Regions from separate parts of the Homo sapiens genome. Here region 2 is linked to region 1. Evidence: fine-mapped expression QTL. Tissue or cell type: whole blood. Region 1 holds a variant in brackets; the other region holds the start of a gene. All regions are shown on one strand. Distances are from middle to middle.

The links. PIP is the estimated chance that this variant, and not a neighbour inherited with it, causes the effect.
Region 2: BCAS1-AS1 starts here. The variant in region 1 is fine-mapped to the expression of BCAS1-AS1 in whole blood (INTERVAL, PIP 0.99).

The regions. Positions count from the first base shown.
Region 1 is chr20:53,939,342-53,944,726 of GRCh38, forward strand. BCAS1 (brain enriched myelin associated protein 1) reads right to left here. Exons shown (of 13, transcript NM_001366298.2): 13 at 4,200-5,385. BCAS1-AS1 (BCAS1 antisense RNA 1) reads left to right here. Exons shown (of 5, transcript NR_199019.1): 3 at 1,091-1,257; 4 at 1,944-2,054; 5 at 2,834-4,240. Among named protein-coding and RNA genes, the nearest start is that of BCAS1-AS1, 27 kb to the left of the region's middle. The variant C/T (reference allele first, on the strand shown) is at 2,530.
Region 2 is chr20:53,912,344-53,917,728 of GRCh38, forward strand. BCAS1-AS1 (BCAS1 antisense RNA 1) reads left to right here and starts at 3,146. Exons shown (of 5, transcript NR_199019.1): 1 at 3,146-3,223.

The sequences.
Region 1 (5,385 bases):
CTATGAGACTTAACACCAGTTATATGAAACGATACATTTCCTCATTATCGTTGTTAGCTGGAAGAGAGTCTCAGAGAATCAAAGCCAAAGATGTTATACAACACCTATTATATGAAATGATAAATACCCTTATTGTTACGATTATCTGCCAATTCAAGTAGGGGTTTTCTGTTACTTGGTGCTAAAAGTTCCCCATGATAGAATAGCTTGCCTTTCCTAAGTGCTTACAATGTGCCAGCCACTGCACTAAATGTTTGGTATGCACCATCTCACTGCATGCTGGCAGCAACTCCACGAGTAGGCTCTATTATTAGCCCATTGTTGAGGGAGGACACTCAGAGTTTAAATCACTTGCTCTTTAGTTGGGAGTGGAGAAGATGAGAGGTAAGGCTGCTTTGTGGAGCAGGATGGGCCAGTAAGGATTACTTAAATGCATTGCAATGACACCAACTGAAACGTTTTGCAATCACACAATCTTCCTTGAGCTTCTTCCAAGATAGAGCAGATAAGGATGGAAACACAAACCAACCAACCTTATCTTCATTTGGAGGACTGAGAATCATAGAAGGCAACTGACTTGCCCAGTTCAGCTTTCTCGTTCTAGTTCTCCTAATTAAACTTGACTGCTTTCTAGAAGTTAATCAACAAATACACTCTCAGGCTGCTTTGGCCCAGTTTCCCGGTTAGGCAATCAGGGAAAAAGGGCTAGGCATTGTAAAACCCCAGGTCCTGCAGCTCCCCCACGTGGCTGCATTTTGACAAAAGCAAGCTTCTGAGAGAGTAGATCACGTAAGGAACCAGCCCTTCCATGGCTGTCATTAGCAGAAGTGCAGCTGGGGGCCATTTTGTCAAGAAGTGCTTATTTGGAAAAACAAAACAAAACAAAAAATGAAAAAAAAAAAAAAAATCTATACAGGTGCATGCCAGTCCCCCGGTAATGAAATGTAACAAAGGAAGCACTTAAGTTCAGTGAGGGAAATACAGCTTTAAATTACAGATTGTACCCAGAGCACTTTATAAACGGTAATGTGTGATAATGTATTATCCTTACTTCTGTGAAATTGTGGACTGCAACTTCTGCCGGGGCCAGTTAAAGGGCCAGGAGATGGAGAGGGTTGCGTGAATGCCATTCAAGAAAAGGGCAACAGAGGCTAAGGGGTTAAACTCCCCAGAAAACCAATTTATGCAAAGGGCTGGATCCTGACCGGCATTCTGCACTAAAGATCTGAATTACAAATTTAGAGAATTTGCTGCTCGGTAAGTAATTTCTTTTCTTCCTAATGGAGACTATAATTTCCAGTGGGCCGGTGCCACTTAATTTGCACTGATAGAGTGAACAAAATCTTGACCACGGAGAAGCCTAATTCTACTCACCGTGCAAAATTGCCCTTTAAAAAGGCTTAAAGAGGGACATTCAAAGGATGGTTAAAACCAACCCCTATAATCTTACATTGCTGCAAAGCACATTCCCTAGTTTCCCCTGTGTTTGTATCTTGGGTTAGTTAATAATTGGAATTAGTTCTTTTTCCTTCCCTGTAAGGTAGGTAGTGTAGCTGATTTTATTTTTTTAAGGTATAAGATCTACTTGGGATTATCTGACATAAGAAATAACATTGTCAGATTCAGATTGGAGAAATCTGCACCCTTCCAGGCACTCTGAGAAGGGAAAGGACACAGATTCTTGGTTTCTTGAAATCTAATTCTTTAAGACACTTAGAATCTAATTTAATGAGACCCCAGTGCTTCTGGACTGTTTGCAAACAGACAAGAACAATCTAGTGTGTGTGAAGTGGGAGGAGGGAGGGGAGAGAGTGTGTGTTTAAACCCCTGATAATTTATCTAAAAAGCAAGGGGATACATACAACAAAGACCAGGAATTTCACTTTCTTTCTCTTTTCCTTCCCATTTTGGTTTCTATTTTGTTATGTGCCTCCTTCTCCAAGACAACGAATGCAGGAAGGACCTCACTGGCTGCTGGGAACAACTGCCCTTTTGAATGAATTCTTTTATGGTTACCAGTCAAAAAGTCACCGTCAGCTGGAACTGGAAGGGAGGTGTGTGTGTGTGTGTGTGTGTGCGCGTGTGTGTGTGTACGCGCAGTGGCAGCCATTTCAGCTCAATAGCTCCATTCCTGGAAAGGCCACTTCTTCTTGACATGGGAGAAGACACACTTCCCTGTGTACCTAAAAATAAATAATAAGTAAATAAATAATAATAATAAGAAAGTCATTTTTGCTCCCTCCCCCAGGTCTTAATTCTTCTTTCTCTTTTAATCATGTTTTTCTGTGTGCCACCTTTGCTTTGCTTATTTCCCCCACTGCTTGTTCTGTCTGATGGCATTTCTGGGAATCTGTGTCCTAAAGGCTTTCTTGGGTTTATTGGTGAGTTTCAGCTCTTTTTCACTCTAGTTCTGCATAAGGGGTGGGCATTAGTATTTATTGTAAATGCATTGGAAATGGGATCTCAACAACAATAACACACACACACACACACAAACACAAAAATGGAGTATTAACTTGTTTCTTAAGC[C/T]ATAACTGAATTTAGAGTTCTCCCAGTAAGTCATGCGCTTTACTTCTCTCTGGCATTTCTTGCTTTTTTAAAAAAAAGCAATTTCATTAAAAGACTATTCTCTTTTTTGGCCCAGGAGCATAGGAAACCAGTTATAAAAACTGTTGGCATGCTTTGCAGAGAGATTCTCAGCAAAGAGGCTTTTTTTTTGTTTTATTTTGTTTTGTTTTGTTTGAGTGGGGGCTTGGGAGGGCTCCATCTGCCTTAGTAACTGGCTAAGTAACTGGCCTGGGCTACTCAGTCTGTTTCTCTTCCTCCTGCCTAGGGGCATTTCTTATCTGGGCAAAAAGCCCCTGTACCCAGCGAGGTGAAACTTGCAAATGATACTGTCACCTTCCTCAATGGACTGCAGCTCAGGAGCTCACCAAAGGTTGCAGCAGACAACCCCCACGGTGTTTGGAGACAAAGGAATAGCAGCTGCCTGGTTTCCTTGAATCACCCCGTGCTCTGACGATGGCAGTGATGGGCCTCCCACCAATGGCTTCCCCAAGTGCTGTTTTCCTGCTTCATGCCAAGTTAAGCATTCTGATACTAAGCGGCACGAGATAGTTCTCAACTGGGTGAGGCACAGGTGTGAGTAATCTCGAGGTATGGTCAGGAGGTTTGAAAAAACTAACCCAGCTGCAAGGAAAAGACCTCTGGTCTTTATTGGAAACACGAATTTGACCTGTCCAAGCTGGGAGCTAATAGGCCCCAGCAGCTCAGGATCCCCTCCTCACTTACGCTTGGGTTTTGAGTGATACCATATTTTTCTGAACACATTTTCCAAATGCCTATTTGCCAAAGCCGTGGTGTAATTTGCCTAAGCAGCAAACTTGTCCTTAGAGTCGAGGTCCATCCACATCAGGAGAGTATATTCAATGTTTATCTCCGATCAATGTGTGATGAATTGCATATGAGATAGATTTGTGTGAGCCAATGTGTGTGTGTGGATCTGTGTTAGTTACATGTGTTTATTTGCATGTATGTAAATATGACTGTGTGAGTGCATGGATCTATTCCTGCATGATATATATTTATATATATGAATATGTGCATATATATGCAAATATGGGTATAAATATGTATCTGAACATATAGGTGTGTATCTGTAGTGGACACTGTCAATGCACTCATCCTCCAGTTACTTAGGCATCCCAGCTTCTCAGCTCAATGGGGGCCGCTTGCCCATCCCCCCACCTCCCAGGGCAGCCCAGAATTCACCTACCAGGGTTCAAAGGCTGGCTCCCTTGACTCAAGGTCAAACTATCTGGGTGGTGCAATTCATGCTCCAGTTGAAACCAACCCTTGCCCAACTCTTTTCTTGCCCTCTTCTTTTTCTCTTACTCCCTTTCCCTCGGAGCCCACTCTCAGTATATCCTATGCGTCCAAATCCCCATCTCAGGCTCTGCTCCAAGCAACCTGGCCTAAGACAGCACTATTCTATACATGCATGTGTGTGTACATGCAAACATACAACTGCACACATTTGTGTGTGTGTGTGCCCATATACAAGGAAATCCGGGAAGATCTGGGAGAGAATGATCTTCCAAAGAAGATAATGGAGAAAGAGTATGGATTTTATAATGTAGAAGTTAGAGTCATCTCAGATATAGAGTGGGACTGCTTTGAAGTTGAAAATTAAAAGATACTTTAGAAGTAAATGTATTTTTTATTAAATCAGAAAAAGAAAGATACAGTTTACATGACTGTCAGTCAATCATATGCTACTTTGAATTACATTTTAATAGACTCAGGGTCCTATTTACTCCTTTGTACAGGTATTAAAAACAACTCAGGTATTTGAGAAGTCTTCTGTAAATTTTTATTAACTGAGGTTATGGGGAGGGTTTTATCAGAGCACATCCTGAGAACATTAGGAATGACAGACACACTTGAGATAAGTGTCAGACGGAACAGATGAAGCGAGCCCCTCAGCCATCTGAGAAACATTAATAATGTAAGATAGCAGAGACCAAATCTTTGTTAGGGATACAGTATTACAGGATAAAAATGGGGACCTTGCCGCCCCCTTGTGTTGCAAAATAACCGTGCAACTTCCTTTATTTTTTATTTATTTTTTTTTTTTAAGTTGTAATCTTTGCCGTTGTCACTGAGCCTCAAAAGCAATTGTTTTCCCAAATCATTTTAAGCCCTCCCCAGTCAATCTTTTCCCTCTCATCAATAACTTACAAGGACCCTATTTGAAAAACAACGCTTATTCATTCCTTTTTCTATACCCCACACATTCCGTTCTAGGAAATTGGCAACCACCCAACACAGCCCGGGTTCTCCCTCCTTGAGATGTGAATTTAAACAAATGGATTTTCGTCTCCCTTCTTCAAGCTTAGAGGATAAGCACGCATTTACTACAACGCTTAATTCCTTCTAGCAGCATTTCTCTTCTATAACTTACTTGCCACTGCCTTTTTTTTTTTTTGATAGAATCTTGCTCTGTCGCCCAGGGTGGAGTGCAATGGTGCAACTTCGGCTCACTGCAACCTCCACCTCCTGGGTACAAGCGGTTCTCGTGCGTTGGGCTCCCGAGTAGCTGGGACTACAGGTGTGTGCCACCATGCCTGGCTAATTTTTGTATTTTTAGTAGAGACGGGGTTTCATGATGTTGGCCAGGCTAGTCTTGAACTCCTGACCTCAGGTGATCCACCTGCCTCGGCCTCCCAAAGTGCTGAGATTACAGGCGAGAGCCACCACGCCCGGCCACCACTGCCATTTTCATCACTTAACCCGAACACATTCCTCTATTCCCTCCCTTTCCTGCTTGGTGATCATCGACTCTTCTGACCCAACTAGGTGACCTGCTAAACCATCTTTACTGTT
Region 2 (5,385 bases), 27 kb before region 1:
ATTTAAGAAGGCATTTAGGAAGTTGGTGGAGCAGGAGATATGGATGTTTATAAAATGAGAGCTGTCTCTCCTTTGGCCAGTGCTGGATCCTCTCTGCTGTTTGTATCTACATGTGAGAGGGAGGTTTGGGGATCTTATGTGCAAGACTGCTTTCTGTGCTCTCTGTCTCTTATCTCCTGTCCCCAGCTGAGGTAGGAGCCGTCACTCCATCATCCTTGCCCCCGTCGAATGGTGCTTGTCTTCTGCCCCAGCCCTTGCCCTCCTGGCCTGCTGTGTAGTTAGTTCCTGGCATGGAATGGAATCTAAGAATGAAAGACAGGTCGAGCCCTTACAGTTTGCAAGGCCATCTGAGAGGTCTTCGTGTACCTTGATGATGACGGGGTCCTCTCCACAGCCCCAAGTGAAGTTCAAAGGAAAAAGATAATAACGCGGCCGGGCGCAGTGGCTCATGCCCGTAATCCCAGCACTTTGGGAGGCCGAGGCGGGCGGATCACAAGGTCAGGAGATCAAGACCATCCTGGCTAACATGGTGAAACCCCGTCTCTACTAAAAATACAAAAATTAGCCAGTCGTGGTGGTGGGCGCCTGTAGTCCCAGCTACTTGAGAGGCTGAGGCAGGAGGATGGCATGAACCTGGGAGACAGAGCTTGCAGTGAGCTGAGATCGCGCCACTGCACACCAGCCTGGGCGACAGAGCGAGACTCTGTCTCAAAAAAAAAAAAAAATATATATACACACACACACACACACACACACACACATATTCATATATATACGTATATATGTATACATGTATATACGTATATATGTATATATACATATATGTATATATATCCATGTGTGTGTATATATATCCATGTGTATATATGTATACGTATATATACACGTATATATGTACGTATACATGTATATATATACACATATACAGATACATGTATATATACATATATATAAAATAAAGCATAAGATATAATTATATTTTTGGAAATGACACATAACTCTATGTATTATGATGGTTTTCTTTTGAGGTTTCCTCTTTGGTTCTTGAGGAGTCAAATCCCTTCTTTGCTATGCCGTAGTTGCATGTTGAGAGGTCCTGTGCCAGGTGCTCAGGTGCCTGTCATTTCATCAGCTACACACCCTGGAAGCAGGCCTGACTCAATGGTCCCTGCTTTCCCCATGAAGCAGCAGTGACTCAGAGAGATGACACATTTGCCCACGGTCATTCAGTTTCTCAGCTAAATGAAGCTTCATTTAGCTTCATTTCTCCTTCTCTTAATCTCCAGGTATCTATTTATCTATCCATCCATCCATCCATCTTCCTATCCATCTATTCTCTATTGATGTATGTATATATATATATGTATTATGTATCTATGTGTCTATTACCTGTTTATGTTTCTATTACTTATCTATATCTACCCATTTATATGTATGTATGTATCTATCTACCATCTATCTATCCATCCTCTACCTATTTTCCATCTATCTATCATCTATGTATGTATTATGTACCTATGTGTCTGTCATCTATGTATCTATTACCTATCTATCTTTTTAAAAATTTATTTAATAGAGACGGGGTCCCGTTATGTTGCCCAGGCTGGTCTTGAACTCTGGACTCAAGTGATCCTCCTGCCTCGGCCCCCCAAAGTGCTGGGATTACAGGCATGAGCCACCATGCCTGGCTGTACCTATCTATCTTTATCTACTCATCTATATATATTGTATGTATCTATCATCTATCTATCTATCTATCTATCTATCTATCTATCTATCTATCTATCATCTATCAATCATCTATGTGTCTTATCTATCATCTATCTTATCTATGTATCTCTATGACCTGTCTATCTATGTATCTATCTGTTATCTCTCTGGTTATCTGGTCTCCAGTGCCCACCTCCTCCTCCCAGTCTTTTCTCTCACCCTGACTCTGAACTTCTCCAGGCCTGGTGTTATGTTTTCTGTAGCGTGACCTTATAACTAACCATCCCATCGAAGACGCTTGGGGGAGTGAAAGGAGGGGCTATTAATACTTCTGCAAAAACTGGCGCTGCCCTGAGCACACTGGGATGCCTGGTGGTGGTGGTGGTTAGGTGTAGATTTCTCCCCATTCCTTAGTGCCTCACAAGGGTGCTGTAAAACGTTTGTCGAGTGTGTTTTATCAACAGTCTCAGAAGGGGTGGTAAAAAAAAATACTCGTTTGTTTCATACAGAGAGAAATTGCATTACAAAGTGATGACTTACAAAATCACCGAAAGGAAATCAATGGTGAGGTGGAGCCAAACCTCTGCTGTAGAATTTCTGGATTCAGATAACACAGAGCTCTCTCCATCAAGCATTTGTGTGCAGAAGCTAAGCTCCAGGCCCAGGGAGAGAGCTTGAAGCAAAGACATAATAAAACAGTAACAGCTGCTACCGAAGCTGTGTCATGCAACTTTGCTTAGCCCTTTACTGTATGGTCTCATTTATTCCTTAAGGAAGGTGAGATTATAATAGAAAAGGAAAATGAATGTGCCGCAGTCACACAAATCACTCACTACTACACTGCCACCAGAGCCCAACAGAGTAGCCACAATTGTTTTCTTCCTAAAAGGTGCAATGGAGTAATACTGCACAATTTCCATTTAGATGTCCCTTCAACACGTTTCCTGGGAATCTTAGAGCAGTTAACACCCATTTAGAAAGGAGCTTTTTCATTTCGTAAATATGTTCAGTGCACCAAAACAGGCAAACAAGATAACCCGAACTCTTAACTTGCCTCAGCACCTCACCCCTTAAGATACATAGAAACAAATCAGAAATTATGCTCAATAAGGAATTTGCAAGGCTGAGGAGGGGGAGCTGGAGTCAAATCAGCTGGGTCTTCCGCCCCCTTCAGTAGGAGGGGGAAGATTACTGCAGAGAATGTAACAAGGAGAATAAGAGAGAGGGAGGGAGGGGGAAGAGAGAGAGAGAGGGAGGGGGGTGGAGAAAGAGAGAGACAGAGAAGGAAAGGAAGAAAGAAAAAGAGAGAGAATAACTGTTGGTAACGGACAGCCCAAGAAAATTGTAGAAAAGTCCATCTCTGGTACCTACCTGGTGCCACCTTCCCCCCACCCCCGCGTTGTTTATTTATTTATTTATTTTTTCTAGCCACCACCATTTTGTTGCCTGGCAGAGGTGTGAGATGCAAGGCTGTTTACAAAGCCCCCAGCAAGAGCAATCCCATCATCAGGAGGTTTGCTTCCCCCCCGGGCCAGCCCTCTCGCTCTCCATGCCCGTCTTGGCTGCATGCGTTGTACCTAACACATTTAACCCGCGTTTCTTAAGAGTTCTGCAAAATGGTGTCTGCTGGTGTTTGCAAGGGAAGCTCCCGCTGGGCGTCCCGAGCTGGGTGGGAGCTGAGTGTGCGGTTCCCTAACGAGCTGGCGGCCGGCCTGAGCGGCTCTGATCTCCAATTCTGACGGCTTGTCCTTCAGGTGACCTATATTATCTGGCACCTCAGTTGCTGCTCACAAAGAAAAAGTATCACTGGAAGAAAGAAAAAAAAAATCCCAAGTGATTGTGTACATGCTCTTTATTGAGAATATTAAACTCAGACGCCCTCTGCTGGGCAAGACGGGAAGGGGAGGCTGGGAGTAGGGGAGGGTGGCCGGGAGGGCTCAGGAGAAGCCGGGGACGGCCTCCTTCCTGTGAGATCTGTGGGCATGATTCAGGGCAAAGGGCGCCCATCAGAGCTGCTTTAGGCAAAGGGAAATACAAAACAAAAGTGAAACCGCTGACAAGGAAATCATTTAATTGGGGAGAAATGACAACTTCTTCACTTGGATTTTTTTTTTTCCTGTTCCTAAAATTGTTGCTTTTGATAGGTGAGAGGGAATGGGGTGGGGGAGACTGCTGGACACTGCCAACTTATTCATCAAGACAAAGGGTTTGGGTTTCAGGGAAGTCCTAGCAAAGAGTGTGGCTCAGCGGGTAGAAGGGTAGCTGAAATACCAGGACATTTTTGAGAGTGAAACAGAGTGCTATGGATGATGATGCGGACACAGCAGGTATAGTCCAGAGTGTCCCAGGCAAATCTGACTACCTAGTCCAGCACTGCACAGAGAGCTTTCTAGGATGATATGAATGTTTTGCATCTGTCCTGTCCTATCTATCTATCTATTTATTTATTTATTTTTGAGACAGAGCCTTTCTCTGTTGCCCAGGCTGGAGTGCAGTGGCACGATCTCGGCTCACGGCAACCTCCAACTCTTAAGTTCAAGCGATTCTCGTACCCCAACCTCCCGAGTAGCTGGGATTACAGGCACCCGCCACCATGGCTGGCTAATTTTTGTATTTTTAGTAGAGACAGGGTTTCGCCGTGTTGGCCAGGATGGTCTCAAACTCCTGACCTCAGGTGATCCACCTGCCTCAGCCTCCCAAAGTGCCGGGATTACAGGCGCGAGCCACTGCGCCCGGACTGTCCTGTCCTATATGGTAACCACCACCCACATGTGGCTACTGGGCTCTTGAAATGCAGCTACGCAACTGTGAGGGGATGAATTCTTAACTTCATTTAATTTTTGTTATTCTGAATTTACATTTAAATAGTCACGTATGTCTAGTGGCTATCAGACGGTAGAGCTCTGGTCTTACTATTCACAGGAACACACCGTGACCCCCATTGACAGCAGCTAAGACCCCAGGAACAGGCTTGTTGCGAGAGGCCCTCCAAACAATTTATTGAATGAATAAAAACTCAGTAATCAAAAGTCACAGAGATAGAAATTCACAACACTTCTTGGAGACTTATAGGAGCTTCCAGAAACACAACTTCTCCCAGGGAGAGTCAAGAGAGCAGTGTCATTTCCTATAAAATGTCCAAGGCCAATCCCAGGTCCCGGTGTCAGCCCTTGCGTGTGGCACTGGCACCAGCAGCCAGAAAGGTTACTTGTGACTTGTTTTCAGTGCTTTCCTGGGAGTGTCCTGAAAGCTGGCAGTGTTTCTGCCTCGTCAGAAGAGGCCTCATTCATTTGGGGTTGTACCAGCAACTTAAAAAGTTTTTTTTTTTCTTCCCTCTTCCAGTGTTAATAGATTTTGAAAGAGGCATTTTTGTTTCTAATTACAAATTCCTGGGTGATGTCATTAAGCCCTCAAACACCCGGTGAGGGCGGCACTGAATGGGGAAAGACAATATGCTAACAAGTTATCTGAGGGTGTCAGAAAGAAATGATGAAAAACAGTACAGTTGGGGGAAATGTTTTCCAGCCTGCTTTCTGGTTTTAGCGACTGCATGGGAAGAGATAAGACACACATGGCTTTTATAAGGAGCCATCGGGATCTCTAGGGGACATGAGGCAGGAGAAAAGAATTGGGCTGAAAGCATCCAATCATCACATATTCACGGAGAAAGAGATT